Linked DNA regions of Homo sapiens. The protein of the gene in region 3 purifies or fractionates together with the protein of the main gene of each other region. This does not show direct contact. Each region holds a gene or a part of one and is shown on either strand. Other genes may lie near its edges. The genes, in order: WWC1, MARK2 and PARD6G.

Region 1 (3,651 bases), on a different chromosome or scaffold from region 3:
ATCCATCTGATAGGGACCCCCCCGCCCCGACCTTTAGAGCAGCCCACCTGTTCAGTATTCATACCCACATATCCATAATAGAGCTCTTCTCTTCCCCCGGGATCCTCTGCCTCAGCCTTTTCCTCTTAGCAGATGCCATCTGCAGGGCCACTTGGCTGCCCGTAGCAGTAACCGCACAGTCTTCCACATTTACTCCCTCAGCCTCAGCTGCTCCTGCAGCCCAGGCACTGTCTCTGTCTCTGCATTGCTCAAGCCTCCACCATCTCGGTTACACCTCACAGCCACCCTCCCCGCCTTCAGTCTTCAGCCTCCTGCCCATTGTCCTCCCCACAGTCATGGTGACCTCAAGATGATAAGGTCTTTGCTAAAGCCCCTGCTTGGAATGTTCTTCCCTCCTGCACTTTTCCTAGCCAACTGCTGTCCATTATCCATCCTTAAATTTCTCTACTAGTCAGGAATCTAACTGCTGCAAGAAACAGCCCCCAAAGTCTCCGTGGCTTCATACAACGGGTTTATTTTTTGTTCATATAATGTCTAATTGGGTATGTCCAGTTAACAGGCAGCCTTCCATGTGGTCATTCAGGAACTCAGGCTCTTTCCATCTGTGACGCCTCCCCTTTGAGTCCACAAGAGTCCATGCAACAGACAGTAAAGAAGACACACACACTTTTCTTAACTACTAGTGCTCACATCCCATTGGCCAGAACTTGGTCATACGCCCTGCCCACCCGGCCACAGGGAAGGCTGGGAAAATGGTGGAGGCAGGGTACACACCACCAGTCTCAGCCACAGAGTCACTTGACTGGAAGAGGCTCACCTGCCAGTTCAAATTGGGCCTCTCCTTTTGTGTTCTTTTCTACCATTTGTACTTTTTCTTCATGGACCTTGTCACACACTGTGTTAATTAGATATTTGAGTATTTCTTTAATATCGGTTCTCCCCAGTAGAATGTAAGCCCTATAAGAACAGAAACAAGTCCTACTGTGCTCACTCACTACTTTATCCCCAGTGCCACAGGCAGGGTCCAGTACAAAACGGGCATTCAGTAAATATGAGCTGAAAGATGGAGGAAGGAAGAGAAGGAGGGTATGGTTGGGTGAAATCCTAATTCTGCCACTAATTCCACAGCTTTAGGTAAATTATACAACTCTAAGGGCCTCGATTTCCTCTTATGTAAAGTGGTAAAAATCATTCTTACTATGCAGCATTATTGTGTGACTGAATTAAGGCAGTGTCCTAAGGTTCCCAGCAGAGTGCCTGATATATATATATAGTGGGTGAGTGATATTGCAGTTATCATAGGATTATAATATATGTGGAAGCTCTAGCTCCCCAGATGCCGTGGTCAAATGCTTTACGGAAAGTTCTTGTGCCTGTGGGTCTGGGTGTACATGGGTAAGAGTGCATGCCTGTGCTTCCTTTTGGTGCATCCCTCGCATGCTTTCTCTCCTTCCAGGTTAAAGTTAAACAGTAAGAGGAACCAGCTTGTGAGAGAACTGGAGGAAGCCACCCGGCAGGTGGCAACTCTGCACTCCCAGCTGAAAAGGTGAGTGGTGGGCGGTGAGGCCACTGCTCCCCTGGGCATGGCCAGACATGGGTGTCCCCAGTGTCCCAGCCCAGGCTCTACCCTTCACTTGTCCTCCGTGGCTTGAGAGTGGATGTTTAGAAGCATAGCAAATGGATTGTCAGCAGACTCGGGCGTGGCCTGGTGTAGCTAGGAATAGGGGTCTTGACCTCTCCAGACTGATAGCACAAAGAAGGCCCCAGGCAGGTAATAGGTAGTCTTAAGAGACTCGGCTGGGTGTCATGGCTCACACCTGTAATCCCAGCACTTTGGGAGGCCAAGGTGGGTGGATCGCTTCAGCTCAGGAGTTTGAAGCCAGCCTGAGCAACATGGCGAAACTAAAAATACAAAATTAGCTGGGTGTGGTGGTGCATGCCTGTGGTCCCAGCTACTCAGGAGGCTGAGGTGGGAGGATGACTTGAGCCCGGGAGGAGGCTTACCGTGAGCCGAGATTGTGCTACTGCACTCCAGCCTGGGTGATAGAGCCAGACCTTGTCTCCAAAAAGAAAAAAAAAGCCTTAGGAAACTCACACTGCCACCTACCTGCACAACACAGAGAATGTAGCCTCAGACCTGGGCCTCCATGAACAACAGTGCATCAGTGGAATTCAATAACATTTTGTTCCATTAGATTTTTTTCTAATGGTGGTCTTCTCTTTGTAGTAAGTGATACTGCTTTTCAAATTACACTTAGGATGTAAAGTTTCCTTTTAATATAGATGTTTTAAAGTATTAAAACAGTGAGTTGGGGCAGGCGTGGTGGCTTACGCCTGTAATCCTACCACTTTGGGAGGCCGACGCAGGCGGATTGCCTGAGCTCAGGAGTTCGAGACTAGCCTGGGCAACACGGTGAAACCCCCTCTCTACTAAAATACAAAAAATTAACCGGGCGTGGTGGCAGGTGCCTGTAGTCCCAGCCACTTGGGAGGCTGAGGCAGGAGAATTGCTTAAACCCAGGAGGCGGAGGTTGCAGTGAGCCGAGATCGCCCCACTGCACTCCAGCCTGGCGACAGAGCAAGACTCCATCCCCCCCCAAAAAAAAAAAAAAAAAAAAAAACACAGTGAGTTGATTTCAAGAAAGATATTAAGAAATCTTTATTACATAATGGATTCAACTATGAAAACATATCATACAAATGCAACGTAGCCAATTGGAGCTTTGGGAAACACAGATTTAGAGGAAAAAGTGGACTTTTAAGGCAGCTATAACTTGAGTCCAAAGCCCAGCTCTGCCATGTCTTGATTATGTGGCCTTCTTGGGGTATCAGTTTTCCATGAAGTGGGGGTGAAGGGTCTACCCTAGAGATTGCCAAGCAAGTCTAGTGAGATCATGGTGCTTTCCAGAGCTCAGCAGAAGGTCTCAGGGGGCCCACTTCACTGTGTGCATCTCACTGTCCTTCCCCTCCCTGTGTCCCAGTCTCTCAAGCAGCATGCAGTCCCTGTCCTCAGGCAGCAGCCCCGGATCCCTCACGTCCAGCCGGGGCTCCCTGGTTGCATCCAGCCTGGACTCCTCCACTTCAGCCAGCTTCACTGACCTCTACTATGACCCCTTTGAGCAGCTGGACTCAGAGCTGCAGAGCAAGGTGGAGTTCCTGCTCCTGGAGGGGGCCACCGGCTTCCGGCCCTCAGGCTGCATCACCACCATCCACGAGGATGAGGTGGCCAAGACCCAGAAGGCAGAGGGAGGTGGCCGCCTGCAGGCTCTGCGTTCCCTGTCTGGCACCCCAAAGTCCATGACCTCCCTATCCCCACGTTCCTCTCTCTCCTCCCCCTCCCCACCCTGTTCCCCTCTCATGGCTGACCCCCTCCTGGCTGGTGATGCCTTCCTCAACTCCTTGGAGTTTGAAGACCCGGAGCTGAGTGCCACTCTTTGTGAACTGAGCCTTGGTAACAGCGCCCAGGAAAGATACCGGCTGGAGGAACCAGGAACGGAGGGCAAGCAGCTGGGCCAAGGTAGAGAGCACCATACCCAGAGGGTGGGAACCAGGAGGAGGGAAAGAGATACTCTGTGCTCAGAACCCCCCAGTGATCATTCTAGTCGATATTTACTGACTGCTTCTGTGTGCTGGGTCTTTGTATGGCAAGTA
Region 2 (3,651 bases), on a different chromosome or scaffold from region 3:
GGAAGACGGACACATACACACACACACACACACACACACACACACAGATACACACACCCAAACATAAAGCACTAGACAGAAGCAACAGACTCAATAGCCGGGTATGGTGGCACATGCCTGTAATCCCAGCTACTTGGGAGGCTGAGGCAGGAGAATCGCTTGAACCCGGGAGGCGGAGGTTGCAGTGAGCCAAGATCCTGCCATTGCACTCCAGCCTGGGCAACAAGAGCGAAATTCCGTCTCAAAAAAAAAAAAAAAAAAAAAAGCAACAGACTCAAACTTCCGATCAGACACACACAGAGACACACACACACACCCAGAAATGTACACTTCCAGATACAAAAAGAGACACAAAGATATCTAGATCAATGTAGTAGTGCTAGCCGATGACCTAGACACATCTAATCAATGCAGACTAACCTAGATCAACTCACCCGTATTGAAACTCTGACCCAGTCCCACACCGACCCTACCAGCTTTCTATTAATTCACTCATGGAGATCAGTGAATGGGCCAGAGGACCTTAGACACCAAAGCTGAGGCTTAAAATTGGTGAGCAGAGAGCACACCTACTCAGAGATGAGCTTCTGCCCTCAACAGGTGTTAGAAGCATAGGTGCTACAGACAGTGAGGCTGGCCAGGTCAGAGAATGGGGCGGGGAGCACACACCTCGGAGCTCTTGTAGCCCAGGAGCAGATAGGTGGCCATCACCTCGTTGTATCTCTGGCCCACCAGCGAGTCCTGGATCTCTTCCCGTGTATAACCCATGGACACCATCAGCTCTGCACAGGGGGACATACAGTTAAGACTGGCCTCAACTCCTAGGCAAGCTTAACCTCACAGCCCGGCACAGCCTCACCTGTCCGCCGGGGGTCCTTGTAGTCAGGGAGTGGCTCCACGTAAGGCTTTAGTTCATCATCTTCGTGACCCACATTCATCCATCGATCTTTCATGATTTGCTGGGGAGCACAGAGAAGGAAAAGGGCAGGGGGAAGAAACTCAGCTGGAAAGTTTCTGTGGGGACCCCAGGCCCTTCCGCCAGTTGGGCTCCACTGCTCACCTCTAAAGTGCCTCTCTTGCTGGGATTAAGAATGAGAAATTTCTTAAGCAGGTTTTCACAGTCCGTGGACATGTAGAATGGAATACGGTATTTTCCCCTCAGTACCCGTTCCCGCAGCTCCTGCAGGAGGATCCAGGGTTAGAAAATTGAAATCACCCCAAGGCCAAAGGAAGAAACCTAATATCCAAGATCCTGAGAGCTTAAGCCTGGCAAAGCAGACATAAATGAAATATGGAAGAAGGCAGACAGCCTGGGGACAAGACACCTCACCAGAGAGGCAAGTGAAGTCAAATACCCTCGTACCCTCTAACTTGACCAGTCCGAGGCCTGCAATCCGGAGTGCCTTGGGGGATGAACACACACACAGTTTATCCCATCTTTCGAGAAAGGAACTGAGGTTATTCATTCCCAGGTGCAGAAGGCCTTTGACTGCTGCTACCTCAGCAAGCCCTTCTCTGAAGCTTTGGCTTGGGACAAATGTAGACAGGTGGCAAAGGCAGGAGGTCAGGGCTAAGACCAGAGGCCGAGAGGAAATGAGAAGCAATAAAAAGCTTGCACTTCACTCCACCTTGAGGTTCTGTCCATCAAAAGGCAGGGATCCGCTGACCAGTGTATAGAGGATAACTCCTAGGCTCCACACATCCACCTCGGGTCCATCATATTTTTTGCCCTGGAAGAGTTCTGGGGCAGCATAAGGGGGACTGCCACAGAAGGTGTCCAGCTTGTTCCCAAAGGTGAATTCATTGCTGAAGCCAAAGTCTGCAATCTTGATGTTCATATCAGCATCCAAGAGCAGGTTTTCTGCCTGGGAGGTAAGATGGAAAACATCAGGGAACCAAGTGGACCAGACTAAGGCCCTGGGCAGGAAGGAGCTGAGGGGAATGGGAGAACAAACGGAAAGTCATCTTCAGTCTCAGAACTTTCTCCACCAATTTCAGGGCAGGGCTTCAATCAGCGTGAATAGGCTGGGCAGGAGGAAGGCAATGCAGGCCACTCCTCACGTGGGCAGCCATGGGAGAGATGGGATCTGAAGGCCCAGAGACCCTGTGAGCTGTGCAAAGCTTCAGCATCAGGCCCAGGTTAATCAAATCATGTCTGTGAGGACTCAGCAGCCAAGAGACCCACAGGTGTCCTCAAACTTGAGTATCTTGGTGATGGAGATGGTATGTGTGTGCCTGCCTGCAAAGCAGCTGGGATACAGCTGTGGAACTTTCAGCACTCTTCCCTGGGTCAGCTACCAGGTTGCCTGAAAGACTGAGAAAGCCTGGAGTGTGCCTGCCTTGCTTGGCAGCACTAAAAGGTGATGTGCCAAGAGGTGAAATGGCAGAGGGCCCCTGCTCAAGGGCTAGAATGGAACCCGAGGTCCAGCCACAAGGCCTCTATCAGAGGCAGCCCTAGGGGCTTTCTGGTCATCTCAAAAAAAAAAAAAGAAAGAAAGAAAGAAAAAAAGAAAGGCTGGAGTTTCCTGGAACACTCAGGGCCTGATGGTTATTGATGGTTTTATCATGGAGAACCAAGAGGCAACAACCTGGCTCCCACTCAAAGGCACAAGGAGAAGTGCATGCCTTACCTTTAAGTCTCTATGGACAATAAACTTCTGGTGACAGTACTGCACAGCAGACACTATCTGAAAGGAAGGAAGAAGGGTTAACCCAGGGGTGCCTGAGGGTGGGCCACAGGGGCTGACAGAGCAGTGACCCTGTGACTTAGTGCTAACCTGCCACACGGATAAGCAGAGCCCAAAGTACCCTCCAAGGGCCACTTACAGACAGGCAGCTTATCCTTACATGTCAAACCCCAAAAGCAGAGGTCAGGCCTAGCTCCTATGGAGGGAGTCACACCTACCTGGCGGAATTTGGCTCGAGCCTCTTTTTCTTTCATCCTGCCATGAGCCACTAGGTAATCAAATACCTCTCCTGTAAGAGACCAGGCAGGGATCTCAGTCAGAGCTGGCTGGAGGTGGAAGAAGTGGGGGCACAACAGGAAGAGGCAGTTCCACACCTACCGCCACTAGCGTACTCCATGACAAGGTAGAGCGTTTTCTCAGTCTCAATCACTTCAAATAATTTAACTACAAGAGAAAAGGCCAAGCCTTAAGTCAAGAAGCAACAGGGGCCACATACTGCTCTCCAACATGTCCAGGAGCATCCTAGGAACGAAAGTCTCCCCTCCTTTCATGATCCCCCACTCCCAAGAACAAGTTCCTCTCATGCCAGCCAAACTGCTAAAGACAGCCCAGTGTGCCAGAAGGGGAGATGGATTTTGAGCTGAGCTTCCCCAGGGGTATCCTTGAAGACTGCAGACTCCAGAAGGCAGTGCACCTCGGGGAGAAGATGACATGCTGGAAAGCAGTGCCTTGCTGTTGGGGAAGAAGAAAGAAATAACAACTTGTGCTCACCTATGTTGGGATGATTCAAAACCTTCATTATTCTTACTTCGCGGAATAGCTGGAAGATAAAATACCAGGGGTCATGCCTGCCCAACTTGCTCCCATCAGGTCTCTCCAAACAGTCCCTGCCAGGATTTGTTTTTCCCAAAAAACCAAAACCGGGCAGGGAAAAGAAAATAGGGTGGTTGTCTAGCTCATGCAC
Region 3 (3,651 bases):
AGGCCTCCCTGAAACAGCATAGGCTAAATGTTAGTTCTACAATGTTTCAGTCTTAACTTTATTTAGCAACTAACCTAAAACACATCTCAGTTTCTCAGTACGTTCAATAATTTTCTCAAAATATGTCTTAGCATGTTAACTTGAAATGAAAAATAAATTCAGACTGTTTCCTGAGAGAAAACAAGGTTGATTTGTGTTTAATGATGAGGCTGACTTTGCCAACCCAGCTATATGGTAAACATGCTTCATATGTTGAATGAGCTCCAAAGTTTTGACAAAAAGAGATGTGAAATGTGACATGACAAAAGCATTGTATTTAAAAATCATATTGGTATTGGGTACTAAATATTTTTATTTCCCCATGATATCAGATTAAACAAGAGTCCTCTAAATGAAGGAATTAGCAGGTATAATTCATTGTCACATACTTCTTGGTAAAGTCCTTCCAGTATACTTACCAGAAACTGAAACAGTGAATGGCTCTAATGACCAGGCAATAAACCTTGCAAGTCAAGTAGTTTCCAATTACTTGCTTTTGACAAAATATAAAGTTGTCCTAACTGAACTGTCAGCTAATTATCAAAATAATTTTGAGAGACCACCCTATTATTTTTGTCACACAACCTGTTGAGAGTTCAAAGAACTGAGCTGTGCTTAGGGGCCTTCACTCTCATCTACCTGAGTGTGCAAATGAAGCTTCACAGTGTTGACACCCAACAATAAAAATTGCAAAACAATTAGTGCCAGCCTACCTCATTTATCAATAAATACTTAACAGTAAATGAAAGATTCTTCAAATGTTTATTTGGATGGCTAGTGATTATCAATAAATACTTAACAGTAAATGAAAGATTCTTCAGATGTTTATTTGGATGGCTAGTGATTATCAATAAATACTTAACGTAAATGAAAGATTCTTCAGATGTTTACTTGGATGGCTAGTGATTATCAATAAATACTTAACAGTAAATGAAAGATTCTTCAGATGTTTATTTGGATGGCTAGTGATTATCAATAAAGACTTAACAGTAAATGAAAGATTCTTCCGATGTTTATTTGGATGGCTAGTGATTATCAATAAATACTTAACAGTAAATGAAAGATTCTTCCGATGTTTATTTGGATGGCTAGTGATTATCAATAAATACTTAACAGTAAATGAAAGATTCTTCCGATGTTTACTTGGATGGCTAGTGATTATCAATAAATACTTAACAGTAAATGAAAGATTCTTCAGATGTTTATTTGGATGGCTAGTGATTATCAATAAATACTTAACAGTAAATGAAAGATTCTTCCGATGTTTATTTGGATGGCTAGTGATTATCAATAAATACTTAACAGTAAATGAAAGATTCTTCCGATGTTTATTTGGATGGCTAGTGATTATCAATAAATACTTAACAGTAAATGAAAGATTCTTCCGAAGTTTATTTGGATGGCTAGTGATTATCAATAAATACTTAATGTAAACGAAAGATTCTTCAGATGTTTACTTGGATGGCTAGTGATTATCAAATTGCACAACTATGTTCCAATCACCATTTGATAATACTTGTTAATAACTCAATCTAGAAATTTACTATAACAATCTATTTCATTTATAATTGTGGTAAAACACACATAAAATTTACCATATTAGCTCTTTTTAAGTGTACAGTTCAGGAGTGTACATTCACACTGTTATGCACCCACTCTCTAGATTGCTTTTCATCTTGCAAGCTAGAACCCTATACTAGTAAACAACTTAAAAATATTTTTAACAAATAGAGCCCCAGGACCACAAGAGAAAAATATTTGAACTTCAATTTATACATATTTTTTGTTGCAGAGAAGAGTAACAGGGGTAACGAAGCATAAGTTATTAGAATAAAATATTAGGACAAAAATCTCTTGAGGGAGTAATGGGAAGAAGAAATCAAAGAGAAAAAGAAACCATGTATAATTTCTGATTAGAAAAGAGCTCTTCAGAGTCAGAAAAGTGGCAAAAATAAGAGTCTGTTTATCCTATTTTAAAATGCATGATAGTGGTATCAAATCACTGCAGCATTTAGATTTCACTGTATCAAATCACTGCAGCATTTAGATTTCACTGTATCAAATCACTGCAGCATTTAGATTTCACTGTATCAAATCACTGCAGCATTTAGATTTCACTGGCTGTATTTAGAAGATCATGCACCAAAAACTTTATTTGTAATGGAATATTTACAGCATGCTGTAAATTACATCCTTTGCAAACTATTTATATTTACTAAAAAAAATTCAGGTACCAACTTAAAAATATATCATCCCCTTTTATAGTGGTAGTTTTTCAAAATTCTTTCAGGCTTCATGTGACATTTGAAGACCACAACATCAGAGTTCAGGGATCACTATGAAAATGCCTAAACCACCATTAAAGGTTAGCAGGAGACTTGGCACTCCCTAATATTTTCATTGTTTTTCATGTGGGTGTTTGTTCGTATAGCAGGACTTACAACAGGACGGCTGCTTCAACATCTGCTGGGCTTCATTCATTCACCTACTATCCCGCACATAAAATGCCTCAAAGGGAGCCATCCTATCCCGGGAGGTCATCTCCTCACTCCAAACCAGTGACCAATTTCAATGAAAGATCAATACTCAAGCCAGGCATGGTGGTATACACCTGTAGTCCCAGCTACTTGGAGGCTGAGGCAGGAGGATCACTTGAGCCCAGGAGTTCCAGGTCAGCCTGGGCAACATAGCAAGACCTTGTTTATGTTAAAAAAAAAAATCAAATTTCCTAAAAAAGATTGCATTGCTGTGCCTGGCCTAGGTTAGTAGCAAGTTAATAGATAACCCCATCAAAAAGTCCACATTGGCCAGCGATGGCTGATGTCTGTAATCTCAGCACTTTGGGAGGCCAAGGGAGAGTCCGAGACCAGTCTGGCCAACATAGTGAAACCCCATCTCTACTAAAAATACAGAAAAACTTAGGCAGGCGTGGTGGCACACGCTTGTAGTCCCAGCTACTTGGGAGGGTGCTCCAGGAGAACTGCTTGAACATAGGAGGCAGAGGGTGCAGTGAGCCAAGATTGCACCACTGCACTCCAGCTTGAGTAACAGAGTGAGACTCCATCTCGAAAAAAGAAAACAAACAAACAAACAAAAAAAAAAAACACACCTTTCCCTCACCAGTACCCTGACACTATGAGCTGTATCATTTCCCCTTAAAAGGACCCATGGTTCCGAGGCAAAATGGCTAATTCCAGGTATATGGCAAGAAATGTATGTAAGCCTATGAATCCCATGTTTATTTTTAAAGAATAAGATTATTTGTTATTGGGAAATACACAGGTGTGCAAATTCTTATTCTTCAATGCTTCTAGCTAAATGAACCCTCATTCATTATTTAGATAATGATTATTCTATTTTGTAGTTGACCCCAACTATTATTCCTACAACAGGATAGTAAAAAACGGGGTTGGGGGAGATTTCATCTTTTAAAATTATTAAAAATTATCTCAAATACAAAATACCAAGATCAATAAGCAAAAGCGTATCAGCATCTGGCTAGGTGTGGTGGCTCACACCTGTAATCCCAGGACTTTGGGAGGCCAAGGCAGGTGGATCGTTTGACTCTAGGAGTTTGATACCAGCCTGGGCAACATGGGGAAACCATGTCTC

Evidence for each region.
Region 1: the proteins of PARD6G (region 3) and WWC1 purify together in Homo sapiens (co-immunoprecipitation; one large-scale study listed by IntAct). This does not show direct contact.
Region 2: the proteins of PARD6G (region 3) and MARK2 purify together in Homo sapiens (affinity purification with mass spectrometry; one large-scale study listed by BioGRID and IntAct). This does not show direct contact.

Annotation. Positions count from the first base shown.
Region 1 is NC_000005.10:168,420,552-168,424,202, forward strand, and holds part of WWC1 (protein KIBRA), read left to right. Parts: intron 1-1,456; coding exon 1,457-1,546; intron 1,547-2,981; coding exon 2,982-3,517; intron 3,518-3,651. UniProt on the Homo sapiens protein: Regulator of the Hippo signaling pathway, also known as the Salvador-Warts-Hippo (SWH) pathway.
Region 2 is NC_000011.10:63,898,088-63,901,738, reverse strand, and holds part of MARK2 (serine/threonine-protein kinase MARK2), read right to left. Parts: intron 3,508-3,651; coding exon 3,459-3,507; intron 3,132-3,458; coding exon 3,066-3,131; intron 2,977-3,065; coding exon 2,906-2,976; intron 2,688-2,905; coding exon 2,631-2,687; intron 1,866-2,630; coding exon 1,629-1,865; intron 1,181-1,628; coding exon 1,061-1,180; intron 960-1,060; coding exon 860-959; intron 783-859; coding exon 670-782; intron 1-669. UniProt on the Homo sapiens protein: Serine/threonine-protein kinase. Involved in cell polarity and microtubule dynamics regulation. Phosphorylates CRTC2/TORC2, DCX, HDAC7, KIF13B, MAP2, MAP4 and RAB11FIP2. Phosphorylates the microtubule-associated protein MAPT/TAU.
Region 3 is NC_000018.10:80,205,994-80,209,644, forward strand, and holds part of PARD6G (partitioning defective 6 homolog gamma), read right to left. Parts: intron 1-3,651. UniProt on the Homo sapiens protein: Adapter protein involved in asymmetrical cell division and cell polarization processes. May play a role in the formation of epithelial tight junctions. The PARD6-PARD3 complex links GTP-bound Rho small GTPases to atypical protein kinase C proteins.